Linked DNA regions of Homo sapiens: region 1 is linked to region 2. Evidence: fine-mapped expression QTL. Tissue or cell type: testis. Region 2 holds a variant in brackets; the other region holds the start of a gene. All regions are shown on one strand. Distances are between the middles of the regions.

Region 1 (8,184 bases), 31 kb before region 2:
TCAGCATCGCACGCTTTCAGGCAAAGTGCAACAGAAGGAACTGTACTTGTCATTACACCAACTGCCTCCTTCCCAGTGGAGGGTCTTTGATCCTGGTACTATGACTCACTGGGTCACTAAGGACTTCAGTTGTCCCTCCACCATGGTGGGTCTTGGGTTTCTCCATTCAGTCCAGATAACACATGTAAAGGATCTGAGGTCCCTAGATAAGAAGCAACATTCAGTAGAATTTGGCATTCATAGGATGATGAAATTTATGACATCATTATCCCAGTTCTCACGGTTATAATCCACAGAAAGCTTCTCTTTATTCTCAGAACTAGCCCTTGTAGTGGCCTTGAATGTGCAAACGTTACCCTTTAGTAATGTTTGAGGCAGAATTTGAAAATCTGAAACATGATTCAAAGCTACCCTACAATAACTAAGCTGCCATAGTTACCTAAGGCTGCTTCCCAATATGTTTTCTATGAATCTGCCTTTCCAATAGAGCACAGTGCAGGGAAAAGGGGAGGGGGCAATTGTACAAAAGACACAAAAGGTCCAGTTTTAGTTTGGCCCATGACTGCCATGCCCTGGAATTCTGTACAGTCTCAGAAAGAGAGTGTCACTGATTATTAAAAATACATAATTTCTTCTTTTTTATTTTTTTAATTTTTAGAAACATGGGTCTTACTATGTTGCCCAGGATAGACTCAAACTCCCGGACTCAAAGGACCCTTCCCTCTCAGCCTCCCGAGTAGCTGGGACTGCAGACGCATGCTAATTAACAATCAACAACCAGGGGCCAGGCGCGGTGGCTCACGCCTGTAATCCCAGCACTTTGGGAGGCCAAGGCGGGTGGATCACGAGGTCAGGAGAATCGAGACCATCCTGGCTAACACGGCGAAACCCCGTCTCTACTAAAAATACAAAAAATTAGCCGGGCGTAGTGGCGGGCGCCTGTAGTCCCAGCTACTCGGGAGGCTGAGGCAGGAGAATGGCGTGAACCCGGGAGGCGGAGCTTGCAGTGAGCTGAGATCGCGCCACTGCACTCCAGCCTGGGCGACAGAGCAAGACGACGTCTCAAAAAAAAAAAAAAGAATCAACAACCAATCAACTGTTGCTGATTCTTGATTAAGAAAGGCTCATGAAATATGTTTGAGCTCAGCAGGGTCTCCTCTCACTTGTCACACGTGGTGCTCTCTTTCATCAGGTTCTTCCTGCTCCCCCCATCTGGGCAAGCACATCTTTTTTACTGCATGGTACAGGGATACAGGCTGCAAGCACAGTCTCACGGGAACCGTTTAATTCCAAGAGGTCATGTGTGCTCATTTTACATAGTTCATGACCCATAAACCCCAGCATTGGTGTCAAAATGGCACGTAACTTAGGAACTCTCCAAAAATATTTCACATAATCAGAATTCCTTTTTCATCTAATAAGGAGACATATTTTTTCTCCTAAGTGTCTACTAAATGTTAATAAATATTCTCTTCTTTAAAGAGTTCTGTCCATCTTGACAAGGCCTATAGCTCAAATTAAATCTCCTTCAAGGCTTTTCAGCATTCTATATCTCTTTGGTTTCAACTTATTCAACAAATCTCCCCAAATTGTATTTCTCCTTTTTTTCATAAGAAGGCATTCCATCTATACTCTCTCCTTCTCTTCTTTTCTTTCCTTCTGATTCACCAAGAAAATTGTCATTGGTCTTGTCCATGTGTTACATAATAGAAGGGGAAAAGGCAAGGGTACAGCCCAACACAGCGCTGATTTAGAAGGTGGAAAGGACAGTAAAGACCGCCTGGTGGTGGGAGTGGCAATTCACAAGCCCAGCAGTAGAATCATGGAAAGTGGAGTTCGAACATAATCCAGGGCTATAGACCACTCCTGCATCTGACTGCTATTACCTTGTCACAAATCCTGGCAGGCAAGATGACAAAGCAGTTACATCAGGACAGTTGGCAGTGGCAGGTATGAACGTGGCCCCTCAGGCTTGTCACTCCTCTTTACTGCACTCCCAGTTCATGACACCAGACAGCAAGACATGAGCCAGATAGGGGCAGTGGAAGCTGCAGGAGGATTGAAGTCATGGAGCCAGAGATGAGAGGAAACAGGCCAACTCTGTTTACAAAGGAGCACCAGCAGGAGAGTGGTGTGAGGATTAACATTCCATGCAGGGTCTTTCAGATACATGATCTTCTTCTGCCAGCTCAACTGAAACCCAGGAGGTTTCCTGAAGGTGAAACCAAGACCCTTCTACCTCTGAAGCCGCATTCTGTCTAAGGTCCGTGTTTGGCTGTTTTGAGAGGCTGGGAGACAGGACACCAAAAGAGTACCTGTCTCACAGGATCTTTCCTGAGAGGAATGGTCTAGTAAGACTGGTCATTATGGGCTTTGGAGTAACACAGGCTTAATGCCACTGGCGACTCTGCCCCTTTTGGTTGTGGAAACTGGGCAAATGCCTCAAGCTTCTTAACCTTCATATAAAAAGCATATATAAGCATATAGCAAGTACTTGATAAATGTCATTTTAGACCCTGTCATTTCTGCTAGCCCTGGACTCCAGCAAGGTCCATTTACAATGGATAGCTGACTATCCATTGTTTGAATGTTGATAGCACATTTGTGAACAAGAAGAGAGGACAAATAACAAGAGGTTTGGAACTGGAAGAAATTCCAGCCATCGGTTTTAAAAGACGAGGACCAGTCTTCAGAGAGGCCACTAGTGACACTCTGCTCCAAACTTCTTTTTGCCAAAAAAGTGCCACCCTCCATCCAGCCCCCACCCCCATCTCTGCAAGTCCTTACTGGCGAGAGGAGGATACTTTTCTAATTAAAAACCTGTGATATATGGCCTGACAAGTATTCTTAAATGTAATTAAGGGGACCATAGTACAGAATATTTCCATCCGGTTCTAGTTTAGCCAATCTAGTAAATGATCCAAAGGGTCCCGTGCTTAGAGGGCAGTAAGACAGTAAAAACGCCCTAAGACTCCTCCCTGCACAGCACCTGCACCCCCACTGCCCAGGGGGCTGCATCCATCTCCACATGACTCACCCTCCCTGTGCAACGCATGGGGGTAGGGAGGGAAGCGCCAGTATTATCAGCCATCAGCACCCTGGGGTGAACTGATTATCAGGACAACTAAAAACACACCTAATAAAGCCTTGGAGACACATGGCAAGCACCGTGATGGACTAGAAGCGATTTCTAAGCTGAAATGCTGCTTTGAATGCAATGTCAGCTGGATGCTTGGTGAGCAGAAATAGACAAGGGGAAATGGAGCAAGCGCGGCATAGGGGTGAGTGTTGTTCTGATTCCTAAGTTTACCTAAGACTGGGGCCACGGGGTCGGGTGTCCCCTGGGACCTACGTCTCATGCAGCCTGGGGTCCAGAGCTGGCAGGAACAATGGAGATGGGGACCAAAGGCTGTCACCGCTGCTTTTTCTCGAAATGCCCGCCCGGGTCCTGTCTGGGGCTCCCGCCTACGCGCTCATCACGTGCACAGCCCAAACTTTTCAGAGCCGGCCCGAGGCCTGCGGGCCCGGGCGCCAGGGTGGTTTTTAGGGTTTTCTTTCTTTCTTATTTCCCTTCTTCTTCTCCACAGTTGATGATTTTCTGCAGAAAAACAACTGCGAAAAAGAACCTATTTCATTTCCAGTTCCCATCACCGCGATTTCCACATGGATGTGACGTGACCCCAGCTTCCGAAATGCCCAGGTGACTCACGCGGGGACACCCCGGGGCGGGGCGAGGGAGTTTCTCCGGGCGCCTGCAGGGACCGGGCGGGGCGGGGCAGCGGGGCGGGGCAGGGAAAGGGGGCGGGGCGGGGCCCGCAGGCCCGGTCGGGCGGAGGCCGCGCGCGCCCCTCGCCCCCTGCGCCCTCTGGCGGCCGGCTGGACGCACTTCGCAGCCCGACCCAGAGAGTCACGTGACTTTGGAAAGTCCCGTGGAAATCCCCGGGCCTACAACCCGCATACAACTGAAACGGGGCAAAGCAGACTGCGCAGTCTGCAGTCTTCGTGGCGGGCCAAGCGAGCTTGGAGCCCGCGGGGGCGGAGCGGTGAGAGCGGCCGCCAAGAGAGATCACACCCCCAGCCGACCCTGCCAGCGAGCGAGCCCGACCCCAGGCGTCCATGGAGCGTCGCCTCCGCCCGGTCCCTGCCCCGACCCCCGCCTGCGGCGCGCTCCTGCCTTGACCAGGACTTGGGACTTTGCGAAAGGATCGCGGGGCCCGGAGAGGTAACCGCCGCGCCTCCCGGAGAGGTAACCGCCGCGCCTCCCGGAGAGGTAACCGCCGCGCCTCCCCGTGCCGTCTGCCTCGGGCTCACCGCAGTCAAGGGCTGCGGGTGCATGTTGGGCAGCGACCCCCGGGCTGGCACCGTCTACCTGGCGTTGGTTTTGCAGCGCTCCTGGACTGGGAGTTTGTTGGACGTTTCTGTCTGGGTTTTGAAGTGCTGGGAGTTGAGGTCACTGCTGCAGAGGTTGGAGTGACAGCCCTGGATACCTCCAGCCAGCTGTTCCTTTCAGATAATGCACGGAACTTAAGCTGCAGCTGACTGGTGAAGAGGCGCCCCTCGGGCCCTCCGATCGGGTGGTCGTTGGCGCTTTGCTCCTTTCGTGTCTTTTTTGGAGCCAAGCGTTGCATGCTCATGGCCACGTAGACCTTGCAGAAGCGCTGCGGCTTTTTCCCAAATTGTGCAGGACCAGCCCGACGGGGCGTAGGGTACCGCAGTGGCCGCCAGCCCGGCGGAGGTGGGGGGCTTCAGTCCCAGAGACAGCTTCCCAGACGCTCACGGGTCCTTGCAGGGGGCTGGGGTCCTGGCGCGGGGTTCAGCTTTTCCAGTAGCAGCAGTGTAAGAGAAGTATGCATGTAGACGTGGGTCGCTGGCCCCTGCTCCAGCCCCTACCCCACGGTTAGACTGTCTTTGTCAGCTGGAGTCGTCCCACATCCTGCCACCTGGCCTCTCAGAAAAGCAGTGGCATTAAGTAAGGAAGGAGCTTAACTCTTTTTGAGCCCGCTTTGTTTTCGGTTCTCCTCGCCTCAGATCTTCTTGCCTTGGAAAGCCAGTCTGGTCAAGTGTCTCAGGGTAGCATTTTGGCAGAACCATTGTTAATTAAAGGGACTTCTGGACCGCAACCTTAATGTACCAGATTATTGAGCAGCCAATGAATGCTTCATTCTCATTGTTTAAGGTGCTGCTTTGATTTTTTTTTCAATTCTTTGTACTATTTTTGATTTTTTGGAGAGGCACATCCCCAAATTTGGATGAGGTATTTGTTGATAAATAATTCATCAATTTCCACAATGCAGACAAAAATGTCTGCCCAGAGTGGAAAAATAAAACAAGGGGGAGAAGAGTTTGAGTAACGGAGAAGTTCTGTGGAATCCTAGTGACAAAAGTTGAGAAACTACCTTTAAATAAGACAGTGAGGTAACAAATGTTAAAAAAAAAAAAGTTAAGGGTAATATTGCATTGTTTGCCACTTATAACGTATCTGAAACATTTGTTCTTTAATCTTAAGCGTAGAGTGGTCCAAGACCTGGAAATCTGGGCAGTGGGTTTTGATTTCTAAGGAGGCAGTTTTACAGGCTGTGCAAGGCTAACCCTACCAATGAGATCACACTGGCGTATCCGATATTGACATTTGCATGTCTTGCCTATGGTTTACAGCTCTCACTATTTTAGATCTTTGGTGAAAAATCTTTAGATTCAGAAGAGAAAAATAAAAGAGTCAGGCAAGCAAAAAGAGATAACACCTCATTTGTTTAAAATCTTCCTACTGCCCATCTCTTTCCATCTGATTGTGGCAGGCACTGTAGCCACAGGTTTGGTGTTGTGGGATTGCAAGGGGCAGGTATTGAAAGACCTGGCTCCTAGGCAAAACTTTGCCCCTGAATGGCTGTGGGATCTGAGCAGTACCTGTAACTCCATTGCCTTAGCTGCAGACTAAGGTGGTAGTGTAATTTCAGGGAAGGGAATAAGGTCATCTTTGACTTTTAGTCCCATCATCAAGCATGGTGATTGGCCTTCAGTAGGTGGTCAGGTAGTGCTTGTTGGGTGGATGGGTGGATGGATGGATAGATGGATGGATGGATGGATGGATGGATGGATGGATGGATGGACGGACGGACGGACGGACGGATAGATGATATTGTGAAAGAGACTTTTGCTGTGCCACAAAGGAAAGGTATATGTGTTATTTTTATCCTGCTATGATTTTGCCCAATTCCACCTGTAGAGGACGTCTGACATCAAAAGAGAGCACCATCTGATCCAGAGAATGACTCCCACTATGCCTTTCCCAGCAATCAGATTAAGAATCCCAATCTAAAACTATCACCAGAAAACTCCTCAGGAGAAACCATGGGTCATCTAGTCCAACCTCTCTCCTTTGAGTGGGCCACAAGAATTATCTCAACACCTTATCAATGGTGTTGAGAGTCTAGACCCACACAGAAGTAGCTACCCTAAAATCTAGGTTTCTTCTCCTCCCTCTTCCATAGGTTTAACATTTTTATTAACTGGAAAGTTGCCCTGGCAAATAAGATGTTGCAGGAATGGAATTAACAATCACTGTGAAATTTCCTAGGGAATGTCTTTGTGCTCTGAAAACTTCTTCATCTTCTTGGAAATTAGGAAGTGTGGCCAGACACCCTACTAAGGGCTAGTAAATCACAGCTGGCTTTTTACAGTGTTCCACACTGGAGAGATCCTACATCATGTTAATTTGCATCATCCTGCGCTGTTGGCATGGGTTGTAGATGCTGGTCTTTGCCACCTTTCCTCCTTCATTTGCCAGAGTGGCCTCCTGGTGGAAACTTCTTTCCTTGTCTACTTCTAGATTTTCATTCCTTCTACTAGTTGATTATGCTTAAAGATTTCAGGGTGAAAAGCCAGGCAGACTTGCCTCTGTGTTGGTACCTGGAGGGTGATGATAAAATTTCATTGGCAGTTGAGTTAAAATGATTGAGCTCCAATATCTGTTCTTAGAAGTATAGAATTTATTGTTCTATTATTATTTTGCGGTTTTTCATTTTTTGTTTTCGTAGAGACCTAGGTCTCACCGTGTTGCCCAGGCTAGTCTCAAACTCCTGAGCTTAAGTGATCCTCCTCCCTCGACCTCCCAAAGTGCCAGGATTAAAGGCATGAGCCACCATGCCTAGCCTATTGTTAGTCTGTTTCTTATTCTGATATGAAGTCCGGTGCGGAGGTTCTGAAGGAATGCTGACTGCTCTTAAAATTGCAAAGCATCTTGCTGGAAATGGACTTTTTTATTGATTAGAAAACATTCGGTTTTAACTCTTTATAAACATCAGAATAAACTTCATGATTAAACACTTTATAAATACTTCTCTTTGGGGCTAAAGAGGAAACACCAACCAGCAGCCTAAGTGACAGCATAAAATTGCAAGATTTTTCATAAAGTATTTTACTGTCCTTCCAGCATAGGGAGGGAGTGATAACTCAAGAGTTTGCCCAAGAGCAGGAGTGCTTGGTGGTGGTCTGAGGGGAGGAGCTACAGACTTGTCAGGGCTACTTTGAGCCCTTAACTGGCATCCAGTACTCCCCAAATCCAGTGCTGTTCAGGGTGGCCTCAGAATGAAACGGGAGCTTAAGTTGGTTTTGAGGAGCAGTACCTGTTGCTGACAGACAGGGTTGGCTCCCTGACAAACATTACTGAAAACACGGGTTATTCCCCTCCTCCTCAGTACCCACTCTCTGCCTTCCTTCTCTTGTTTAGGCTAATCTTTTAAAGTGATGTAACTTAAAACAGTCCAGTGTGAGTTAATCTCTGGGGCCAGCTAGTATCCCGGGAGTAGAGGTGCTAAGATCTTTTGCCTACAGATCAGGGTAATGACAAGATCAAACACTGGGGTTTCCTGCAGGCAGCTATAGAGGAGTCGTATTAAAGTCAGGCTAATAGAATGGCTTTTTTTTTTTCCTTTCCTTTTCAGGTGTTGGAGAGCACAATGGCTGAACAAGTCCTTCCTCAGGCTTTGTATTTGAGCAATATGCGGAAAGCTGTGAAGATACGGGAGAGAACTCCAGAAGACATTTTTAAACCTACTAATGGGATCATTCATCATTTTAAAACCATGCACCGATACACACTGGAAATGTTCAGAACTTGCCAGTTTTGTCCTCAGTTTCGGGAGATCATCCACAAAGCCCTCATCGACAGAAACATCCAGGCCACCC
Region 2 (8,184 bases):
AGTTTCAACAAAAACTTCATACTTCATAACTGACAATGAAATGTGATTCACCATGAATTAGCAGGCACACCCAGTGATTTTTTTCTACATATCTTCTATTTTTTTTTTCCATTTTCTTGAGGTGTCTTTTTCAGCCCTGATAGTCATTATCATCAAAGATTACAATAAAATGAACTTAGAATCATTTTGGAGTGGCTTTCTCACAAAGTGATAGACATGTTTTTTTTTTCAATAAAGCATATTAACTAATTTTTTACCACTTCTTATTGAGGTCAAAATATACTTTTACTATTAATAAAAATGATTTTTTAAAAATATTACCTACTTCATCTGTATCTCATTTTAAAATTCCTCTATTTTGTGATTTTTAATGTTTTAAATAATAGTGCATTATAGTTGATTTAAAATAACTCATATTTTGTAAATTTATGCTCAAAAAATGTTTTTAAAGATGGTATGAAAGCAAAAGGATTTGGGGCTGGGCGTGGTGGTTCACAGGAGGCTGAGGTGCGCAGATCACTTAAGGCCAAGAGTCAAAAACGAACCTGGCCACCATGACAAAACCCTGTCTCTACTAAAAATACAAAAATTAGCCAGGTTTGGTGGTGGTGAGCGCCTGTAATTCCAGCTACTCAGGAGGCTGAGGCAGGAGAATCACTTCAACCTGAGAGGCAGAGGCTGCAGTGAGCCAAGATGGCGCCACTGCACTCAAGCCTGGGTGACAGAGACTCCGCCTCAAAAAAACAAACAAAAAAAGGATTTGGAGTCCAATTTCCAACATGACATGCAATGCTTTTTAGAATAAACCGAGTTGAGTATTCATTCTTGCCTTCTGTCACTACATGTATACATATACATATTACGGCTTCCTAGTCTCTCTAGAAAAGGACACCTTTCTGGTCTTAGGACTCCTTTACAGCCTTAACAATTATTCAAGACCCCAGAGAGCTTTTGTTTATATGTGTTTTTATTTGTTTATATTTACCATTTTAGAAATTAAAACTGAGAAAAATGTCACAGCCAGAATTCACAAGTAAACACACCATTAGCTTCCAGAATGCTGACGTCATGACATGTCATGGAGCCTCCGGAAAACTCCATTGTATACTCCCTATGCCCTTTTTGCCATCCTCTCTTCTCTCCCTTCATCAGAACATGGTAGAGCTTGTGCCTTCTGCCGTGCATTCTCCCAGACATCATGGAAAGAACATGACATTTTGTAAAAGAAATATTTAGGTTCAAATGCCAGCTCCATTACCCATGAGTTATTCAGCCTTCAGCAAGTTGCCTCATATCTCTGAGTCGCAGTTTGCTCATCTGTAAAATGCTCATTAAATGCTTTCAAAAATATATCAGGGAACTTTTCCCCTCACACTATCAGATAATGCTCTTTTTATGGATAACCCAGCTAAGGGTTCTCAACCCTGGGGACATAGTAGAATCACCCAGAGGTCTTTTAAGTGATGCCAATGCACAGAGATTCCTAGCTGTAATTGGCTTGTGATGGCTGTCTCGGGTATTTTATTTTTTTAAGTACCAGTGAATCTAATATGCAGCCAGAGTTTGGAATTGCTAGTAGCCAAAAGAGTGCTGCTTTCAAAGAGCAATTGAGGGAAAGCGAATAAAATTACAATGTATACCTGGGGCATTACAAGAGGGCAGGCACCTTCTTCTGCAGGTGACCAGCTTGTCATGTGAACATGCACTAGGTGGTATTTATTACCATTGTGAATCCATTTTAGTATAGAAGTGCCATAAAAACTCAGTGTCCCAGAGACAATATCAGATCAGATCAGATATTGATCAGAGATATGCTGCTACCGGTATTGATTATTTTCATAACATCCGCTAATTACCAAAAAGGTACAAACACTGTACTCTCCAGTCAGTGACACCCCTCCTTAGAGGCACACTCCATAGCAATGCTTATTATCAGGGTGCTTGATAAGCCTGGAGTCAGATTGAGGGGAGCTAGTGACTGTCTGTGTGATTGAAGCATCCTTCTTCATATTTGGATATATCCGTCTCCATGTCCCAATGGAGTGAGTCTTCTCTCCTTACGTCTCTCCTTACTCAGCAATAGTCCTTCAGGATACTGTCTCCGCATACATGGCTTGATGAGTCCCACCAATGGCTCTGCCTTTGAAACCCTGCCCGTTCTTTGTGTCACCACCCCCACCTTCTGATTGGCCTACTTTCCTCTAATCCTGGTCAACACTTTCAATTTTAAGCCATAGTCTGTCTCTTCTGGCGACTTCATACATATCTGAACTGGTTTATTACTTAACTCCCAGAGGAAAATCTATTTCCAAGGTATTACCTCCAGTTACTATCTAAAACCTTGAGTTAGAACTCAGGAATCTGGGAAATCCTTAGAGTTTGTTGGAGTAAGATTTGACATGTAGAGTTTCAATTATTATTGGAATACTTTATTATAGTAAGAAGGACATCCAGCTGCTGTCAGACTACACAGGAATCAAAACAAGAGGAGATATGATTTACAGCCTGAAGAAGCACAGCAAACAAGCAGGAATTTTCTAATATTAAGAAATTTGATGGCTGGGCGCGGTGGCTCATTCCTGTAATCCCAGCACCAAGGCCAAGGCGGGCGGATCATTTGCGATCAGGAGTTCGAGACCAGCCTGGCCAACATGGTGAAACCCCAACTCTACTAAAAATACAAAAATAAGCTGGGCATGGTGGCAGACGCCTATAATCCCAGCTACTAGGGAGGCTGAGGCAGGCAAAAAGCTTGAACCCAGGAGGCAGAGGTTGCAGTGAGTCATGATCACGCCCCTGCACTCCAGCCTGGGCAACAAGAATGAGACCCTGTCTCAAAAAAAAAAAAAAAAAAAAAAAAAAAGCTTGGATTCCTAATATGAAATGACTAAGGAAAGAAGTAGAATAAATCTCTCTTGCACTGTCCTATCCACTCATCCCCTGCCTTTAAAACAGCACTTATGAGTGCTCTATCATCTTCCTAGTCCTGTGATTCAGTAAACTTCTGCTCTGGTTTTGGGGACCTGGACTTCATTCAAAGACTTGCTGGTGAAATCCTCCAGGTCCTGGCTGTTCCATGCCCCTTCACACCAACAGTTTCATGAAGGTGAAATTAATTAACGTATTGGTTGAATACTGAACTAGTTTACCGAATATGCTTCTCTGTGAATTCCAGTTTTATAGATTTTCCAGTAGAATAATGAGTCAGAATATAGGAAGTAGTTAGTACTCAACACTTTTCATGATCATCTTTAGAAAACATAACTTTTTAAATGACTTAAATTTAAGTTTAGAAAACTGAAAAGTCTGGTGGTAGTTTTATCCATTCTTGAGGGTTTAAAGACATCAACAAGTTTGTGGCTCTTAAAGTAGATACTTTAAAGTAAGAACAGTTATCACAGGTATTAAAAAGGAGCAGTCTTTTTTTTTTTTGAGGCGGAGTTTCACTCTTGTTACCCAGGCTGGAATGCAGTGGCGCGATCTCGGCTCACTGCAACCTCCGCCTCCTGGGTTCAAGCAATTCTC[C/T]TGCCTCAGCCTCCTGAGTAGCTGGGATTACAGGCATGTGCCACCACGCCCGGCTAATTTTTGTATTTTCAGTAGAGACGGGGTTTCTCCATGTTGGTCAGGCTGGTCTCGAACTCCCGACCTCAGGTGATCCGCCCACCTCGGCCTCCCAAAGTGCTGGGATTACAGGCGTGAGCCACCAGGCCTGGCCCATTTTATTTATTTATTTGTTTATTTATTTATTTTGGCAGTGAAAAAAAAAAAACTAAACAGGAGTAGTTTCAAAGAGTTGAGGGGAAATTGTTGACACAGAGGCCTCTGGCTCCACAAGAGGCTCAATCCCGTTGGCCCAGCACAAGCTACACACGTCCTCAGAGGCAGCAAAATCATTTGTGGGTCTGTGAAAAATGTACTGTAATTATTTAACCACTGAGTTTAGAGACATATTGCTTAAACCAACTTTATGCTTCTTTTGTTATCTATGTAGGATTTTGTATTTTTAAGAAAAGAACAGCTTGATATTTCATGTCTGAACAAAACACACGAATGTCTCTTCCAATCTAAAAGTAAATGAAAGATAATACCTGATTGTCAGAAAATTTGTTAATGATGTTATAATAATATAGCATGCATATATTCCAAGCCATCAGTAAAAGTTAGAAGATTATTCATTATTTAATATAAATGAAAATGAAATGAAATGTGCAGAAAAAAATTTTAATGAAAAAATTTTAATTAACCAAAAAAAGAGAAGAAGGTTAGAGAGTGTTCATTTGGAACCTCTTAAATCTGTCTAGTACACCATTGCCCATGCATCAGATTACTCCTCACCTGGTCCACCCCAAAAGCTCCATAACTAGTACTCTTACTTTCAGTCATAAGCCCTCCAAACCACTTGCCAAAGTGCAGCCAGTGGGATCTTTCTAAATATCCATGTAATTACGTTCTCCTCCTGGGGTCCATGGAACACCCTAGATCTGAAGGATTTCAGGGACAAAGACTTGAATGAAGTCCAGGTCTCTAAACTCTGAGCAGAATTCCACTGACCATAGGACTTGTTTTTAATGGCCCTCAATAGATTTCCAAAGTCCAGGTTCCTTAATGTGGCTCACAAGGCCCTTTGGTGATATGTGGCCCATGGCTCTCTGCCTCCATTCATACCCACAGAGAATCCAGGAATGCCCTGAGTCCTCAATCCAGAGCCTGCTTCTGCCATTCCCACCACCTGCACCACCTTTATTCCCTAGCCAAGCCCTATGCATCCTTCATGACTCAACTCTAGAGTCCTTTAATTCAAGAGGCACGTGGTCTCCCACTCTCCAATACAATTTAGCTGCTTTTCCTAGGTACTTCCTTGAAACCTGTGTACTTTCTGTCACGATTTTATAATTATTGATTAATGTTTATCATACATGTGAATTTCTCAAAGTAGAGGAACTTGATTTTTCTGTGTCTCAAATGCTTAACCCTACATCTGACACAGTATGGATTTTCTCTAAAAGTAAATGTTGAGATGATGTTTGAGATGTAAGATTTTTTTAGGGATCAGAATTTGTGTTTTGCCCAGTGTCTGCCCTCTATACCTCCAACCATGGGCTGAAAAAATGTTTAAATATGAGTAGTTTCTCTTGTGATGATCACCACTAATATACCTCAATTAGAAGGCATGTCACCATTGAATCAAATATTAATGAAGCATGTCAATCTGAATTTGCATGATGTACAAATATTTTTGTGATTTTTTTAGAAGTCCAGCTTTGTTATAAAGAGGAGGTTTTTGCATAGGATTTCTTCATCAAGGTAGTGCCTTAAACGCTAATAGCTAGTTGACCCATACAAAACAACTCTAGAATTAAAGAGTGACATTTTGAAGATTTCCTTTTTTCCCTTGCTCAGGATATTCGGTTCTTCGTTTGCTCCAAAATATCTCACCCTCCTCCCACCCAAATTTATTTTTTATGTTCCCTTTTAACAACATTTATTGAGTGCCTCATATATTGCAAGCATTGGAGATGCAAAAGTAAATAGGACACATCCATCCCTTGAAGAGCTCCCATTCAGAGAAACAAAAGTAAATGTAGCTGGGCAGGGGGTTCACGCCTGTAATATTAGCACTTTGGGAGGCCAAGGTGGGAGGATCACGTGAAATTAGGAGTTCGAGACCAGCCTGACGAACATGGTAAAACCCAGTCTCTACTAAAAATACAAAACTTAGCCAGGTGTGGTGGTGCAGGCCTGTAATTCCAGCTACTCAGGAGGCTGAGGCACCAGAATCTCTTGAACCGAAGAGGCGGAGGCTGCAGTGAACTGAGATTGTGCCACTGCACTCCACCCTCGGTGACACAGGCAGACTCTGTCTCAAAAAAAAAATAATAATAAAGTAAATGTAAAAAAGGTAAAATCATGGGGAAAATATGATCATCAGTTGAAACTGGACTGGTGGAAAACAATACCATGTTAGAAATTCTAAGCAGGAAAGGATTTTTTATAGGAAATGTGATGCTAAGATAACTTCTCTTGCTGGGCAAGAGAAGCTCAGGATAAATTGCTGATGATTTTCAAAAGTATGAAAATTCAGGAATTACATTTGATGACATTTTCTTCCTGCCTACATCCACTACCTACAGCTGTCATGAGAAGATAATGGTTTCTCCTTCTCCTTTGCTTTCCAGATCTCTGGTGATTTTTTCTTGGAGGTGAGCCCTAAACAAGAACTCTGCTAGAAACACAGGTCAGGCAATGTTGTTTCCAGGCTTTCAGCCTCAACAGAGAAAGGGAAGCTGGGAAGGGCTCTTGAAGGTGGTGGCAACTAACACTGCCATGTACTATGTATATTGGGGTGGGTGACTTCTCTACCCTGAAGTAGCCAAGCCGACTTTCAGTCTGCAGAAAGGCTATAGGATGTGTATTCCAAAAAACTAGAAGAGATTTGAAATGTTCCTAGCACAAAGAAATGATAACTATGTGAGGTCACAGATATCTTAATTATTCTGACTGGATCACTACACATCGTACGCATGTATCAAAATATCACACGTATCACATATAGGCATACAATTATGTTTCAATATAACAATTAAATTCTTTTAAAAAAGAGATCCTATACAGAGCTTTCCCTTTGATAGGTCTATGCCTAGCTAAGAAACATATTCTCACATTGCTCAAAGGTCCTTTACATCTACTGATTTTTTTTTTTTTTTTTTGAGACAAAGTCCCACTCTGTCGCCCAGGCTGGAGTGTGGTGGTATGATCTCAGCTCACTGTAACCTCTGCCTCCTGGGTTCAAGCAATTCTCCTGTCTCAGCCTCCCAAGTAGCTGGGATTACAGGCATATGCCACCACGGCTAGCTAATTTTTTGTATTTTGGGTACAGAGTGGTCTCAAACTCCTGACCTCAAGTAATCTGTCTGCCTTGGCCTCCCAAAGTGCTGGGATTATAGGCATGAGCCACCATGCTTGGCCTTACATCTACTGACTTTTATCCTTCTAACTACATAGGATGTAATATTTATGTGTTTTGAGTAATTATTTGGGGGTTAAAGTGTCGTCCTAGGAGGTCTAACACATCAATCCTTCATACCAAAGAGTTGACTGCTTCCTGAAATGAATTATAAGGTCTGTTCAAAGTGAAGGTTAGCCACCCCACCCCCCAGGGTAAAGAACATTAAAATGAGAGATAAGGTCTGAGTTCACATCCTAAAAAGGCCATTTATTAAACATAAATACGTCATTAGTCTTCTTAAAGACAGTTTCCTCTTTAGTGAAACAGAGATTTAATAAGCCTCCCCTCCTATCTCAAAGAGTTATTTTAAGATTCAAAACTAGAATGGGAAAATATATATAAAGATATTTTTGTAAATCATAAATGTTATAAAGGTCAGAACCCAAGAAGGCTTACCTGGAAAGTTTGCAGGATCTTGGCAAGGGAGACATGAGGACAGGAAAAGAAGCCAGAATTACTGGGGACTAACCTTTCTGTAGAACTGGGACCTGAGATGGATAGCTAGATTTTCAAGTTATAGTGTCAAAAGGGATATAGTAAGCTTGACACGGTATCAGTATCTAAGAGGTCCAATCTGGGGCAAAACAGACTGTCCAGCCAATGGTGAATTTTGGAATCAGGCATTCGGCAGGGTTGACTGAGATCTAGTTGTTTGGATTGATATCTCAACAGCAGATCAAAGTCCAGACAGTAATATCCCCCACATAGTAGCTTGGCATGGAGTAGGCAATCAATATATTTTTATTGACTTGACCTACTGATAAACAGAATAAAGGAACACATATCTGGCAATAAGATATCATGTTGTCAAGACCCCAGAGAACCTGAGTGCAGTTCATGAGCTGGCTCCAGGCCCAGATAGGGATTTCAGTGTTAACCAGGGCAAGCTGCCTAGTGACATGGACAGAGCAAGCTCAGTGAAGGCCAGGAGGAAGAGAAAGGATACAGCTCAAGGGGCTCAAAGACGTTGAAGCTCACCCCAGACGCAATGGCCTTGGATCCAGCACAAATTCAAAATTGTACCTATGAGTAGGGTTACAGCATCTGATGTACTTCAAGGCTTGGTCAGGCTAGCTGCGTCAGGACCAGGATGGAGCTAAGAATGAAGGTGGCGGGTGCCCAAAGCTTAACAGAAAGTGAAAATACATATTAATATATTATTCACTGAGTTTTTAAAT

Evidence for each region. PIP is the estimated chance that this variant, and not a neighbour inherited with it, causes the effect.
Region 1: WAKMAR2 starts here. The variant in region 2 is fine-mapped to the expression of WAKMAR2 in testis (GTEx, PIP above 0.99).

What each region holds. Positions count from the first base shown.
Region 1 is chr6:137,863,273-137,871,456 of GRCh38, forward strand. WAKMAR2 (wound and keratinocyte migration associated lncRNA 2) reads right to left here and starts at 4,961. Exons shown (of 4, transcript NR_049793.1): 1 at 4,370-4,961; 2 at 3,311-3,612; 3 at 1,887-2,048. It overlaps TNFAIP3 (TNF alpha induced protein 3), which reads left to right and starts at 3,987. Exons shown (of 9, transcript NM_001270508.2): 1 at 3,987-4,270; 2 at 7,941-8,184. The coding sequence starts at 7,956. RefSeq lists enhancers at 3,524-3,663, 7,732-7,851 and silencers at 3,744-3,883, 4,124-4,293, 4,434-4,533.
Region 2 is chr6:137,893,896-137,902,079 of GRCh38, forward strand. No RefSeq gene overlaps it. Among named protein-coding and RNA genes, the nearest start is that of WAKMAR2, 30 kb to the left of the region's middle. The variant C/T (reference allele first, on the strand shown) is at 3,526.